2 separate regions of the Homo sapiens genome follow, and region 1 is linked to region 2. The links come from fine-mapping of genetic effects on gene expression. Tissue or cell type: whole blood. Region 2 holds a variant in brackets; the other region holds the start of a gene. All regions are shown on one strand. Distances are from middle to middle.

Region 1 (8,000 bases), 46 kb before region 2:
TTGGTCAGGCTGGTCTCGAACTCCCAACCTCAGGTGATCCGCCCGCCTTGGCCTCCCAAAGTGCTGGGATTACAGGCGTGAGCCACTGCTCCCGGCCCAGATAATTCTTAAATTCATCCACCCAACTTTCCCATCTCCACTGCTTCCCCTCTGGTCTAGGAGGCCACTGTCTCTTAACTGTGGTTCTAAAAAAAATGCTCCTATCTTCCAGCTTCCACTCTTGCTGCCTTCCAATCAATTCCTCACTCAGCAGTAAGCAACATCTTTTACTTAATTTTTTTAATTTTTTGAGACAGAGTCTCACTCTGTCACCCAGGCTGGACTGCAGTGGCACAATCTCAGCTTCCTGCAACCCCCACCTCCCCCACCTGATTCTCCTACCGAGTAGATGAGATTACAGGCGTGTGCCACCACACCCGGCTAATTTTTGTATTTTTAGTAGAGATGGGGTTTCACCTCCCAAAGTGCTGGGATTCCAGGCATGAGCCACCCAGCCAGAAACATCTTTTTAAAACATAAAGAAAATCAGATGGTCAGGCGTGGCAGCGCGCACCTGTCGTCTCAGCTTCTCGGAAGGCTGAGGCAGGAGAATTGTTTGAACCTGGGAGGCAGAGGCTGCAGTGAGCCGAGATCGCTGCCACTGCACTCCAGCCTGGGATACAGAGCCAGACTCCATGTCAAATAAATAAATAAAAATAAAAAAGAAAATCAGGCTGTTTTCTGCTTAAAATCCTCCTGTAACTTCCTACTGTTATACATGTGGAAGTCCATGTGGCCTAAGGACCTCCCCATCCTGCCACCCCATCTGTACCACCATAGTAGGGGTACTATGCTCCAATCACACTGGCTGTGTATTTCTTCCTCAAGAGCACCAAATGCTTCCAAATGCTTGAGGTCTTCTTAACTGCTGTCTATCTTGCTGCTCTGCTGCTCCACCCCGCCTCTTCCTGTGCCCGTTTTTGTTTTTTTGAGTCCTTGTTCAAATGTTTCCTCCTCTGAGCCCTTCTTGACACCCGAACTAAAAACTTGACTCCCTGCTCTGCCTCTCATTATTCTTTATCACAACAGCTTGTTTCCTGTGTAAGGCTTACCAACATTTGTCATTATTTATTTTTCTTTTACTTATTTATTGCATAGCTCTTCTACTAGACTTCAAGCCCTATGAAGTGGTACCATAGAAGTAGGCCAACAAATAGATGCTCGATAAATCTTTTTAAGTGACTGGGTGAAGTGGTAGCAACTCAGGAGTAGCTTATTTTTTGTGAAAGCCTGAGACTAAGGAGAAGTTTAATAAAAAGACATCAATAAGCTCCTTTATATGCCTTGTTATGGCACAATTGCTAGGTAGTTTTGCTTCAAGGTAGGGGCAGGACCAGATGCTTCACTGACATTCTCTCAGCACTGAGATTCTGGGAGTCTAAATGTCGAGAATCCCACAAGCCCCTGTCAGTCTGAGCTAGCAGCTGCTTTGCAGAGGGGAGAAAATAAAGTTACCAGGCAGATGGGGTGGGGGAGGGGTGGGAAGCTGAAGGCAGTCATTGCTAATGGGGTATGACAGAGCTGTGGGGAGAGGTTCGGGGGTGTGGGAGGACCTTGGCCACAGGAATGCCTTTTTCCCCAGGACAAAGAGGGCAGTGACGCAGAGCACAGGGAAGAGCAGCATTTGATTCAACCAAAGGAGTGGTCAGTGCAGCATGGCGTGGTTGCCTTCGGAAGAGATGCCTCAACCAGAGGCAGAACTAAAATTTCAAAACAAAGAGCTTCCAAGCAGCAGATCTATTGCTCTGCTTCCAGGCCTTTTGGCCTGGAACTTAGCGGATTAGTGGACTTTCAAACCCTGACAGAGGTCAGAGGCAGAGGCAAAGAGATCATGCCTCCTAATTTTAAACAAAAGATCGCTTGAAGAGACCCCAAAGCTCTCTTAATTGCAGGTTCTGCCTGGATCATGAAAAATCGCCTTCTGACTGTTCATCCTGCAACTTCCTTGCAGCTGAGGAATGGCACCTTGTCATCCTCAGTAGGCATAACCGGTTTGCAGGCCCCAGTCCCTGTTTCACTGGAAGACATCAGAATCCCACTCTCAGTCCGCTCAGCAGCCACACGGAAGCTGCAGCACAGCCAGCTTCCCACTGACCCACCCTGGCACACCTCTAAGAATCTATAGGTCCAGACCAGGGCATAAATCATGTTAAGTTATATCTTCAATAAAGTTATCATTTAAAAGAATTTAAAGTGTCCCCACCCACAAGAAAGAAAGTCTGGACTTCTCTTGAATAAGATACCCCTCAGAACTGAATCAATATTTCTTTTCCTTAAAAAAAAACACCTTGTCATTGGGATCAAACCAAGAGGAGTTATATGTTTCTGCAACAACACTTTGAGCTTTCCTGTTTGAATTTACTTTGTTTTAAAGGAGGTGATGGCGTTGTAATTTTAAAAATTTGGTCCTAACTACAGAATTGACTTAAGTAGTAGAGTTAAGTGATTCCTGGATAAACTATCTAGCAAATGGTAACCAGGAGATTTATTCCTTTCTTTAACGAGTGTAGATTTGAATCTGTCAGCAACAAAGATAGAGGGAGAAGTGATTCTAAAAAGAGATCAGAGAAGGACAAGAGGATGGAGCAACAGGGAAGTGTAGCTGTCCAACAAGAACTGCAGCCTCGCTGGTGGGTGGGACCTGGTGGAGGAAGTGATGGTCTGATTCCTCTGTCAACCAGACCCATTTCCAATTGGCTTTGTGAATCCTAGGTGGTAGGTCCAACAAAAGGATGATGGCATTTATTTGCCTTTATATTATTTTAATACCTGTCCGGGGAAAATGCAACACTCTGACAACAGCCTTAGAAATAGCATCCCATCTGGATTGTTAAGACCACAGCAACTGGCACATTCGACCAAGTTCTTAGGGTGAAGTCTCAGTAGGCCAGTCCAGGTGTAATCTCACTCTGGTGGGTTCAGAGCGGGAAGCAAGATGAAAAATAAGGAGCAGATCTGAATAATAAATCACTGTTACTGGGCACCATAACACAGACGAGAAATTTTCCCCATCCTCAGCGGGCTCACCCTCCTGCACAAGGAATGAACTACAGGACATGATCTCAAACACCTACAGATGCATCTTGCAGGAAGCGTGCACCCTTCAAGGAAAGATCCTCTTCTGGACTCGCTATGCAGCTCAGCTGAAATGGATCAGGTCTCAAACCTGGTAAAGATGATCTTTCCCCTTGATTCTTGGGTGGGGAGTGGGAGGTGAGACGGAGGTGGGCCTGAGTTTATTTTTTCAAATCGTTTATTCTCTTGGTTCTGTGGAAAACTGCAACCGCATCTCCTCTTCCCCTTCACTCTCTTTCCCGGGCTCCCTCCCGAAGGATGAAAGGATCTGAAAGCCGCATTTCTCCCCCTCAGCTAAGCCTGCCCTTTCTCCCCTTCCCAGCCAGCGGCACACAGCACCTGGAGCCACAGCATCGCCGACGTCCGACCCCGGCAGGCGGGCGCAGCGAGGGCGCCGAGCAGCAGCCTTTCTTTTTCCAGCTGCACTGGAGATTTAATTTTAATTAATCGTGAGAGCTTCAGCCCTGAGGATTGAATTTTTGAAATAGAGCACACCCTGCTTGTTTCTTTCTTCTTCTTTTTTTTTTTTTGCATTTCCCTTCCACCCTCCCCAATGGCATCGAAATTTAAAGAAACGAACGAGCAGTCTCACCCACACCTGCCCAGGGACCGACGCTGGCGGAGGTTGCGGACAGCCGGCGGGGAGCGGTTCTGCTCCGGGAGGATGCGGCTTTGCCGCGGCCGGCGGGCGGGGCGGGGCCGGGCCGGGGAGGGTGCGGGGTTCTGGTGGTCACGTGGGCTCGAGCACCGCCCTGTCCGCCCGCCCGCCTCGAATGTCCCTGAGACCCAGAAGGGCCTGCGCTCAGCTGCTCTGGCACCCCGCTGCAGGGATGGCCTCCTGGGCTAAGGGCAGGAGCTACCTGGCGCCTGGTTTGCTGCAGGGCCAAGTGGCCATCGTCACCGGCGGGGCCACGGGCATCGGAAAAGCCATCGTGAAGGAGCTCCTGGAGCTGGGTACGTGAGCGGGCCGCTGGTGCAGAGAGGTGGCTGTGGTGACCTGGGGTAACCTGGAGACGGGAGCCAGGAGCTCTCGGCGGGGCTGAGGGAGTGTGGAGCTGCAGAGCAAAGACGGGGCAGGTGTGGGCGAAATTACGACCACCAGGGAGACAGAAGAGAGCAGCTCTTCCTAAGGAATTGTGGAGCCACTCGTTAAAAACTGAAGAGACCACTCAGGCCAAAGAGACTGTGCCCCAGGTAGGCAGTAAGAAGAGCAGTGAAACATGCTGTGCAATTAGTTTTATATTCAGATTTAAAATTAATCCATTCTATATGCTTAATGTGAGTGATTAGGAAACGTGGGAAGACTTCATTTAACTGGAAAAAGTTGTGAACATAGTGAGTCTCTCATAGTATCTTCTCACATCTCTTAACCACAGCAAGGAAATATGCTGAATATTTACCTTAACTTGGGTGAAGGAAGGCCTTTGTAAACACATAAGTGAGGGAATAAACCACAAAGGAGAACATAAATCAATCTACCTGTATGAAAGTGTAAATCCTCATTGAATTAAAAAAATATATAAAGTTTAAAGGCATATGAAGAAAAATATTTGCAACATAAGATAAATTGTTTGTTGGTTTTGAGATAGGGTCTCACTCTGTTGCCTACGCTGGTCTCGAACACCTGGGTTCAAGGGATCCTCCTGCCTTGCCTCTGAGTCCTAAAGTTTTGGGATTACAGGCTGAGCCACTAGATTCGGCCAACAGCCTTATACATAAAGAGCTCTTACAAATAAAGAAAAAATCCAACACACTGATAGAAAAATTAGACTAATGGTATGGACTAAGCGTTCCAAAAGAAGAACTACAGACAGGCAAGAAACATATGAAAAAATAATCAACTTTATTGGTAATAAAATATGAAACAGTAAGATTTAACTTTTCTAACAAAATTTTGAAATGTTGGGAAAAATTAAAGTGTTGATGCAGGAATGAGAAGGCAGGAATGTAAATTATTACAAACTTTCTGGAAGGCAATTTGGAAAAAAAGATCCAAAAACCTTCACAATGTTTATGCTCTATGACAGTAATTCCTTTTTCAGGAATTTAAGGAAACGGAGTCAAGCAAAGATTTTCATGCAAGGATGTAGTCTTGAGTAGTGAAAAAATGGAAATTACCTAAAAATCCAATATAAGGAAAATAGTTAAATCAATAACAATGAAATATAATGCTTCCGTTTAAATATCTTGCTATTGGTCCTGGCGCAGTGGCTCACGCCTGTAATTCCAGCACTTTGAGAGGCCGAGGCGGGCAGATAACCTGAGGTCAGGAGTTTGAGACCAGCCTGGCCAACATGGTGAAACTCCATTTCTACTAAAAATACAAACCAGGCATGGTGGCGTACACCTGTAGTCCCAGCTACTTGGGAGGTTGAGGCGCAAGAATCGCTTGAACCTGGGAGGCAGAGGTTGCAATGAGCTGACGTCAAGCCACTGCACTCCAGCCTGGGCAACAGAGCGAGATTCCATCTCAATAAATAAATAAATATCTTGCTATTGAAGACTTACTTGGAGAAATGCATACCATATTATTGGGAAAAGTAGAATTCTAAACCTAATAGCATTCCAATTTTACTTTTTTTTTTTTTTTGAGATGGAGTTTCGCTCTTGTTGCCCAGGCTGGAGTGCAGTGGCGCCATCTTGGCTCACTGCAACCTCCGCCTCCTGGGTTCAAGCGATTCTCCTGCCTCAGCCTCCCGAGTAGTTGGGATTACAGGCACGCACTACCTTGCTAGGCTAATTTTGTATTTTTAGTAGAGATGGGGTTTCTATATGTTGGTCAGGCTGGTCTCCAACTCCCGACCTCAGGTGATCCGCCCGCCTCGGCCTCCCAAAGTACTGGGATTACAGGCGTAAGCCACCGTGCCCGGCCCAATTTTACTTTTAATAAAATATATACATGCAGGGCCGGGCACGGTGGCTCATGCCTGTAATCCCAGCACTTTGGGAGGCCGAGGCGGGCAGAGCACAAGGTCAAGAGTTCGAGACTAGCCTGGGAAAACATGGTGAAACCTCGTCTCTACTAAGAATACAAAAATTAGCCAGGCATGGTGGCGTGTGCCTGTAATCCCAGCTACTCAGGAGGCTGAGGCAGGAGAATGGCGTGAACCCGGGAGGCAGAGGTTTCAGTGAGCCAAGATCGTGCCGCTGCACTCCAGCCTGGGCGACAGAGCAAGACTCAGTATCAAAAAAAAAAAAAAGTATTACATATGCAAAAATGGACTGGAAGGAAGTTTATAAGATTTTTAGCCATTTTTCTGAAAATAATGTTAATTATGAGTAATTAAAATTGTCTTCGTCTTTTAAATATTTTTTAATGAACATCTAAATTATCTTTGGTTACGACTGTGTTTCCAACATCTGGCACAGTATGAACTAAAAAAAAAAAATCTATGTTTTTAGTTAAAAAAAAAAAAAAAAGCAAAAACATTTCCTAGTAAGGCCATGATGTAACCTCATCACCATTACTGCCCAGTTTATTCTCAACACCAAGCTCTATCCTCTTTCAGGAATATCTGTAAGAAAATCAGAATCAGTTATCAATTCATGCATAGGTCAGATACTAGGCTTCTCAGCAGATTCGTAGGACCCTAGTCCACTTTGAAGGATTTTTAATAGATTTTTATGTATTTGAACTTTCATCCTGTTGCATAAGTGTGCTATTTGAACTTTCATCCTGTTGCATAAGTGTGCTATTTGAACTTTCATCCTGTTGCATAAATATGCATTGGCCAAAAACTACACCCCTGGAATAAGGTGATAGACTATATTTTTCTTACCACAAACTAAAACATTAGGACATTGGTCTTGTAATCTTTTGGAAGACATGAATCTGTCTGAGATTCTGATGAAAGTGGTGGCGTGTCTTTTGAGAAAAAGACATCATATACTTAAAAATATATATACACAATTATTTTGTTGTATTGGAAATGGATTTCCTTCAGTGAAAGAATATTAAAAATCTTTTTCTTTTTTTTTTTTTTTGAGATGGAGTTTCGCTCTGTCGCCCAGGCTGGAGTACAGTGGCGCAATCTCGGCTCACTGCAACCTCCACCTCCCAGGTTCAAGCAATTCTCTGCCTCAGCCTCCTGAGCAGTATTTTTAATAGAGACGGGGTTTTACCACGTTGGCCAGGCTGGTCTTGAACTCCTGACCTTATGATCCATCCCCCTTGACCTCCCAAAGTGCTGTGAGCCACCGGGCCTGGCCATAAAAATCATTTTTATAATTACTTTTTCCTCTTTATTTTTTTATGCCAGAATCAATGGCTATTTCCACGACATTGTCATATTTTTACTAGAGATGGGGTTTTGGCATGTTGGCCAGGCTGGTCTTGAACTCGGACCTCCAGTGATCTGCCCGCCTCAGCCTCCCTAAGTGCTAGGATTACAGGCATGGAGGCCCCGCGCCTAGCCTCCAGTTTTCTTTCTAGTCAGAAGGCCACTGTTTTTTGTTTTTGGTTTTGGTTTTTTGGTGTGAACTATGTCTTTTTGGCATGAACTTTGAGGCATGGTTTTTAAAATGATGATATTTTTGCTTTTTTTTTTTTTTAACGAAAAATACAGGTGTTTTCTTTTTTACTTCATACTATGCCAGATGGTAACCAAAGATAATTTAGATGTTCATTAAAAAATATTTAAAAGACGAAGACAATTTTAATTACTCATAATTAACATTATTTTCAGAAAAATGGCTAAAAATCTTACAAACTTCCTTCCAGTCCATTTTTGCATGTATAATCCATATTTTTTTTTTTTTTTTTTTTGAGACGGAGTCTTGCTCTGTAGCCCAGGCTGGAGTACAGTGGCACGATCTTGGCTCACTGCAACCTCTGCCTCCCAGGTTCAAGCGATTCTTCTGCCTCAGCCTCCTGAGTAGCTGGGATT
Region 2 (8,263 bases):
GCTTCCCTGGCACCTTCTAGATCGTTAAATGGAAACAAGCTGTTGGAAAGAAGAGATGGGGACCTGGATGCTGGAGAGGCAAGTAGCAGTGCCTGGTACAAAGTAAGGACACTATTTTTAAATTGTGATTATTAAGGAGACACTATTTATTGACGATCCACAGTATGCGAAGCACTGCACACATGGTGTCATATTTAACCCTCACAACTTTAAAAGGTAGATATTGTTGTATCCTTTAATAGAGGAGGAAACTGAGGCTCAGGAAGAGACATGTGCCCAAATTCAGGAAAGCTAACGTGTGGCAGACCTGAGATTCAAATTGAAGTCTTTTCTCAAATGTTTGCCCTAAGGATTTATTTTTTGGTGCTGAGAAAATGTGTGAACCAGGGAAATTAACAAGAGGATTTGGTGGGAGTGAAGAGGGCAAATGAGATTTGCAAGTGACAGGAGGCTTTCCACTTCTTTAACAGATCATGACAACTGGCCCAAGGGAGCAGGGGACCTTTCTGTTGTCAAAAAGATGAAGGAGACCTTTAAGGAGAAAGCTAAGCTCTGAGCTGAGGAAACAAGGTGTCCTCCATCCCCCAGTGCCTTCACATCTTGAGGATATGCTTCTGTACTTTTTAAAAGCTTATAGTTGGTATGGAAAACATTTTTCTTATTTTTAAGTGTTATTAATTATATCTATGGAAAAACTATTCCTGAAATATATACAGTCTTATGTCCCAATCAGAGTCTTTTAACCTATGATTTAAAAATGTATAAGTAACAGAAATTAACATATTTTAATGACTTTACTTTTTATTTCTAAGAAAAGTATTTGAAAAATGGAATAATTTTAAATCAATGATAATTCTAGGGATCATGAACTCCCAGAAGATTTTATTATTTAATTGTAAAGGTAGAGGCCAGACGCAGTGGCTCACGCCTGTAATTCCAGCACTTTGGGAGGCCGAGGTAGGCGGGTCAGTTGAGGTCAGGAGTTCAAGACCAGGCTGGCCAACATGGTAAAACCCTGTCTCTACTGAAAAACAACAAAAACAAAAACACAAATTAGTCGGGTGTGGTGGCACACACCTGTAGTCCCAGGTACTTGGGAGGCTGAGGCAGGAGGATCGCTTGAACCCAGGAAGCAGAGGTTGCAGTGAGCTGAGATCATGCTACTGCAGTCCAGCCTGGGCTACAGAGTGAGACTGCATCTCAAAAAAAACCCAAAAAACAAAAACAAACAACAACAACAAAATTATAAAGGTAGAAAATAAACCTAAATTGTGTCGTAATTAAGATTATTAAAATTAGAATTATACAATGACTTATTTTTGGTGGCAAATACTTTAGGAGCAATAATGCCTTATGGTAATTATTGATGTATAGTTTCTTTTGTTTATGAAGTCAAATTTGTATAAATTCTCTTAATTCAAAGAAAAAGTTTTATGTGATTTATTTTTGGCAGTGCCTGATTTGTGTCTTGATTTTCTGTCCAAAGTATTCCCTTTTTTCCATGTATCTCCTTTTGTAGGCAAAAACAAAATTTCAGTTGCATGCAAATGTATTAGGGTTCCATATTCTGCCTTCCGTGGCTCCAGTCTGATAGTTAGACCCTTATTGAAGAAATGCCTTTAGCAGATTGAATATGTTCATTCTTTGTCTTAATCAAAGTTCTTTCAAGTATCTGAGGTGAAGTAGCTATTTTCTTTTTTTTATCATTAACACTCACTTTATTTATTTATTTATTTATTTATTTTTAAGATGGAGTCTCACTCTGTCACCCAGGCTGGAGTGCAGTAGCATAATCTCGGCTCACCACAACCTCCACCTCCTGGGTTCAAGTGATTCTGCTGCTTCAGCCTCCTGCGTAGCTGGGATGACAGGTGTGCACCACCACGCCCGGCCAATTTTTGTATTTTTAGTAGAGATGGTGTTTCACCATATTGGCCAGGCTGGTCTTGATCTCCTGACCTTAAGTGATCTGCCCGCTTTGGCCTCCCAAATTGCTGGGATTACAGGTGAGAGCCACCACGCCCGGCCTGTCATTTACCCTCATTTTAAAGTGTGTGAGTTACCAAGCTCTGGGGTTTGGGACCCAGAATCTGCAGCTTTCTCATGCTCCCAAGCAGGGCTAGCACGAGGGAGAGGCTAATGAGGTGCCCAGGGTGCAGCATTTAAGGAGCTATTCTCCATTGTCAGGTTTGTGCCAGTGCAGAATTGCCCCTGAGAGTGAGTGTGTCCTTCAATTTTGTGCTCATACTAATAATGTGGGAAGATCAGAAAGCTTCATTTTCCTCCCAGATAGCCCTTTAACAGTGGCCTTCTGGAACTGATAATATCATAACAACTGAGAATTACAAACCATGTTAGAGGGAAAAGTGGCCCTAATACAGGTTGGTGGAGAAGATGGAAAAGGCAGGGCTTGCTTTCACATGACCTGTGTTAATGACTGCCATCGACTCCTTAAATCTCCATAGCGTTGCCAGTTATTTCTGCTTAAGGGACAGAACCTGCCTATGTAGCACTAAACTTAGGTACAACTGCTTATTAGAGCTTCTTCTTAGACTATCACTGGACAGCTGGTCATTATCTATATTTTTAGAATTATGAATTTATTATCCAGGACTCTTATGTACATCATAATAGTATCCTGTCAATAATGTACTTTTGCAACTACGCTTAGTAAATTTTGTTGTAGAGTGACTGTTCTTGAATAGGCTTAATAATTTGGAGCACCTACTATGTATTTAGCATTATGCTAGGAGTCAGACATGCAATGGTGAAAAAATACACATGTATCTTGTCCTTACTGAGCTTACAGTAGGGAGAGATTGAGAGAAAGAGAGAGAACACGAGTGCTATAAAGGATAAGGCCATGATGTCCACGGCATATAACTGAAAGACAGGAAACAAAATGAAAATTCTATATTTATGTAAAAAGAGTTTGTTGATAAAGATGACCCTTGTGAACATTATACCTCCCCCACACTAATCTTATGCTTTGTGGCTTATGTTCAGGTCCTCTGAAAAGCAGGTGCCCAGACATAATGAGATTTGCATGACACTTATTGGGTACCAGGCCCATGAAGGATAAGGGCAGGGAGCCAGAGAAGGCAGCGATGGCCTTCAGACCATGCTGCAAGGCTGACCCCTGTAAAAGAGAGGGGAGAGAGGATTGGGCAGGAGGCATCTCAGATTGCAGCAAAGTGATGCTTTCTTAAGACAGGCTTGCTGAAAGTATGCATTGACATTTACAGTGGCCCACAGGAATACCAGCAGGCGCTCAGTGGGTCATGTGGATTCTCTACAGTGTAAAAGTAACTCTCTCTCCTCCTGCTGGTGCCTGGACAAAGGGAGTTCAGAGATCAGTTCCAGCATCAGTCATAGTTTGTAGCTCACTGGGACCTTA[T/C]GTCCCCTGGCAAGAGCCTCCCTCTTTGGCACCAGGATTTCCAGTGCTGCTATTCTCCTTAAATCCTGCAGCAGATCATTGGGAATGATGGAATGCAGGGCCACTCCCAGTTTCATCTACCGGATCCCAGACATGGTCCCAAACCTACTGGGGACATGCATCTTTGAAGACAGCAAGCACTCCATCCTGGCCCTTCAGCTGGGTCTTGGTTGTTCAAGCCCTCTATGAGGCTGGCTGCCTATGGATGGTGCGGGGTGTGGATACACAGTGGTTCCACAACCAGGGGCTCACTCTTTCGTCTCCTTCACTGGGAGGTGAGTCACCTGATTGGATGCTATGCCCCATGGGATTCCATGCCTATGGTTCAGGCTTTCTATAGCCCCCAGATAGTCATGGTGTCTGAGTCCCTGCAGGCAGGAAAGACAAACTCTTGCCTGGAAGAGGTATCTGTCACTATGAGGAGTGACGCAGAAACCACACAGCAATTTGAACAGGGCAAGTTAAAAGTGAAGAGTGATTATCACAGCAGATTGGAGTAGTGAAGGACTGGCTAGTAGGAAGTAAAAAGAACTTGAACATGAGAATAGCAGATATCAGGAGTAGCCTGCACCACTAGGACTAAGACTGAGAGCTCAAAGAAGAACCTTGGCTGGGCGCAGTGACTCATGCCTGGAATCCCGGCACTTTGGGAGGCTGAGGTGGGCAGATCATCTGAGATCAGGAGTTTGAGACCAGCCTGGCCAACATGGTGAAACCCCGTCTCTATGAAAAATACAAAAAATTAGCCGGCCTGGTGGCGGGCGTCTGTAGTCCCAGCTACTAGTGAAGCTAAGGCAGGAGAATCACTTGAACCTGAGGGCGGAGATTGCAGTGAGCCAAGATTGCACCATTGCACTCCAGCCTAGGTGACAGAGTAAGACCCTGTCTCGAAAAAAAAAAAAAAAAGAAGAGCCCTCCATAGCACCCCTGGGGCTGACACCCAGATTGAGTAGGGAGGGCATGGCTGTGAATCAGTGGAGGGCAGAGAAGTCACTGTGGTGCTCTGCTGGTGGAACTTGCTAGAAACCTGCCCTCTGGCATCCTGGGGAAAACTGTACAGAGAAGTGTCCTACCAGAGGCCTCTGATGCAAAACCCCCTGAGGGAGGTGCTGGGAAGCTGGTGCTCCTTAGCACTCCTGTGAAGCAGTCTGCACTGCACGGGTCAGGAAGCAAAACCCTCTTCCTCCTCCAATGTCTCTCCATCACCCTCTCCCAACAAAGCTTCAGAGCCCGCTGGCTCAGGGGAACAACTTAGAGGACCCAGATCCATTTTCTCAGAACAGAGGAGCAATTACATCTGGAGCCTGCCACTTGTCGACTGGCCGTCCTGTGGCCCATTGGTCTCCTTAAAGAGCAATGCCACTTCAGGGCTCAGCAATGATCTGTGTTGCAGGAAGGTTGGACATGCAGGGGCAGTGACAGCTCCGTTGACCTTGGTTAACAGGGAGTCCATGCTAATGGGCCGTCTACAGCCTGCCTCCATCACTGTGCCTGTCACACCAGTTCTGGGCTGGCCGGTGATGAAGTCCAGCTATCAACTGGCTGAGTTTTCTTGACTGCTTGGTTGTTCTACACCTCTTCCATGAGGATTGCATTCTGGGGACATTAACGTGGGAGGCGGAAATGACACTCCCCTGGAGCGCCCACTCCCCTGGGCTCATCCGTAATCCTCTACCCCAGACCTTGTTTCCTGGCCACTGTATATATTCTCATCTCGGGCCACTTTTCATTCCATTGTAGATACCAGTTGCACTCTCACACGCTGCCCATTAGAAAGATTTTCCATCTCCACCATCACGGGGCCACTCCTGAATAGAGCTATAATGAAGTTCTGACAACTGTGAAGGAGAGAGAGGAGGAAGGGAATTGGGTAGGAAAAAAAAATATCACAGACTGCAGTACAGTCCAAGAAAGAGAGGGCCAGGCAGATGGGAAGTCCTCAAGGCAAAGTCACCCATGGGAACCACCCTTGTCCCAAGGGAATAGCCTAGATGGACAGCAGGGCTGTGCTTGTCACAGGCCAGGAGCAGCCCGAGGGGAAGGCAGTGATGGATGGAGAGGGGCAGCAGCTGGGACCCACAGCCAATCAATTTTGTTTCCTGTAGCAGGAGGTCTAAGGGGTTTCTTTTCATGGCTGCCATTTGGCTATTCTGCAACTGTAAAACTTCACCATTGATCTCATTCATTTTTTAACATGACCTGGGGCTTGGCTCAAAGCAGTGCCACCTTGTGGTTAGTTTTGGAACACCAGCCTGTCTGGGCAGTGGCTTCTTAGGATGCAAGACCTGCTTGCAAAGCTTCAACTTGAGCTTTAGTTTCTTCCTTTGGTATTTCTTCTGCACTCCTTGTTTACAAGGATTTCATTTCAGCAAAGGAGCCATCTATTGAAATAAGATCAACCAGCGGGAAGATTCTAAACCATATTCAGGAAAGGTATGCTACGTCAAAACTAGCGATTACTGAGCCCATGTTTTAAGACAGCCAAATCTCTAGGCTATTTTGGATCTTATCCTGGACAACACTATTTCTGATTTGTATGGTAACCAAGGCCCTCTGTGGGTTAGTTTCAGCTTTCAAGCAGCCGTGGCTCAGTCTAGTGAGAGGCAGTCCTGCGTTCTGCCTGGTGGGAGTCAGAGTCTTAAGATTTGCCAAGTCCTGATGCCATCAGCATTCACATTGCCTTACAGAGGTCTCCTCCCCACTCCAAGATAGGTAGGCCCACCACCTGTTCTTGTCTGCAGCCTTCAGACTTGTTCTCCTTGAGGTCTTCAGTTCCGCAATAGGAAATATCTTGAAATCCCCTTCTTGACTGAGGCCACCCTTTGCTGAGGTTACTGACCTTTCTGCTTGCTGCTTCCTGGCATCCTGTTTCTCTCTGCTTATTTTGCCCTTTTCTGCCAGTTCCTTCAGGGCTCTTGTTGGATTCTCTCTTTCCATGAAGTACAGATTTTAGAGTGCACTGGAGTCCAACTGCTTGGGTTCGAATCCCAGCTTCTACCACTTACTCGCTCTTGTGAAGGCATTGAGACAGCGGAGGAATTTGTATGCAAAATTACTGGTCATTTTATTCAACGTGATAATGGCATGGCAGTTGTTATTATTTTTTATTTAAGAAATGTTGATTTCTAGGATTTACTTTAAAATATTCCAACTTAAAAAAATGGAGGAAGGGGGGTTGGTGAAATGAGATTGGCAACATGGTAATAATTGTCTAAGCTGGGTGGCAGATACATTATACATTATCTGTCTGCAGCTATATTATACATTATATGGTTAATTCTACTAGTCTCTCAATCTTGGGTAAGTTTAGAAGTTCCCCAACTAAAAGGTGTAAAGGTTTAAAATGTGTAAAATGAAAATGGCCTCATGAATTATGAATGAATTATTTGTATTCAAATAATTGTGGTTGGTTGTGGAACACCAGCCCGTCTGAGCAGTGCCTTCTTAGGATTCAAGACCTGGTTGCAAAGCTTCAACTTGAGCTTTAGTTTTTTGCTTTGGTATTTCTTCTGCACTCCTTGTTTACAAGGATTTCATTTCAGCAAAGAAGGCATCTATTGAAATAAGACCAACCAGCAGGAAGATTCTAAACCGTATTCAAGAAAGGTATGCTACATCAAAACTAGCAATTATTGAGCCCAAAATGAATTATTTGGATGGGGGTAACATGGGGAAGAGTGAGCTGACTACATATAAAATTTACTGGGGAGAAACAGGAGGGAGTTTGCACTGAGCCTCCTGTAGTTTATGGTGGTTCATGAGTGTGGCAGAGAGAGTGGAAGACCAGGTCCCAAATAGAATATATGTTTGATGGTGTAAAGCTATTGCCTTCTGACCTGGATTCTGCTCTGCAGGCCCTAGGAAGACCCCTGTACCCCTGGTCAGCCTCCCATGCTGGGTTAGCATTACCAGTTAGTCAGCTCTAGCATAAGCCAACTGGGTCAACGGAGGGTTGCAAGAAATGGACAATGTCATCCAATTATTCTATAGCATTGTTGTACCTGAGTTCATATGCTTTGAGTGGGGAAATTATATCCAGTTGGTAAATTTGGAAAAAAACTCAAACAAATCAGCAAAGTAAAAACAATATTCCTTGTTTCTCTTGCATATTTTGGACCATTTGGCTTTTGTTTTCATTTCTCTGGACTGAGTTACAAGTTTAGTCAGAGTTTGTAGTTCTAAGTATGACTCAACAGAGTCAGCTTTTTCAAATGCAAATGATTATCATGGACTTAAATAGCAAGGATTTGAAGAAAAAGAGTCATTTCTGTAAGTGATTCACAGTAGATGTAAGTTAGAATTTCTTACCCTGTAATTTTACCTTCTGCATGAAAAGCTGTCTATCAAAGGCTATTTTGTTAGATGTCTGGCTTCCTGTTCTCAGATGAACCAAGAAGAGAGGAACAGCCTATTTCTGGTTTTACTGAAGCCTTTTAAAAATCCTTGATGATTTAAGAAATACAAAAATACGGAGAAGTAGAGAGGTTCAATTAGAGTTTATAGTAAAAGATGAGGAGGAAGATAAAGTCCTCAGGTAGGTAAGACTTGCTGCGAGATTTAGCTGTGAGACATTGAATCTGGATTAGTTTCAATGGGATTGATTGTGAAGTGGAGGTAGGCTGGTATGGACATTAGGGGAATTGGGGTAAATGGATGCTTTTATCCAATTCTTTTCATTTCCCTTTCTTTCTTTCTTTCTTTCTCTTTCTTTCTTTCTTTCTTTCTTTCTTTCTTTCTTTCTTTCTTTTCTTCTTCCTTCCTTCCTTGTTCCTTTCTTTCTTTTCTTCCTTCTTTCCTTCTTTTCTTTCCTTCTTTCTTTCCTTCCTT

The links. PIP is the estimated chance that this variant, and not a neighbour inherited with it, causes the effect.
Region 1: it holds the start of PECR, and the variant in region 2 is fine-mapped to the expression of PECR in whole blood (INTERVAL, PIP above 0.99).

Annotation. Positions count from the first base shown.
Region 1 is chr2:216,077,686-216,085,685 of GRCh38, reverse strand. It overlaps PECR (peroxisomal trans-2-enoyl-CoA reductase), which reads left to right and starts at 3,877. Exons shown (of 8, transcript NM_018441.6): 1 at 3,877-4,068. The coding sequence starts at 3,945. TMEM169 (transmembrane protein 169) reads right to left here and starts at 3,767. Exons shown (of 3, transcript NM_001142311.2): 1 at 3,707-3,767. RefSeq lists enhancers at 922-991, 4,116-4,165, 4,196-4,275 and a silencer at 3,666-3,925.
Region 2 is chr2:216,031,568-216,039,830 of GRCh38, reverse strand. PECR (peroxisomal trans-2-enoyl-CoA reductase) reads left to right here. Exons shown (of 8, transcript NM_018441.6): 8 at 471-1,443. The coding sequence ends at 556. It also overlaps a transcript of MREG not described here. Among named protein-coding and RNA genes, the nearest start is that of MREG, 22 kb to the right of the region's middle. RefSeq lists an enhancer at 7,347-7,576. The variant T/C (reference allele first, on the strand shown) is at 3,398.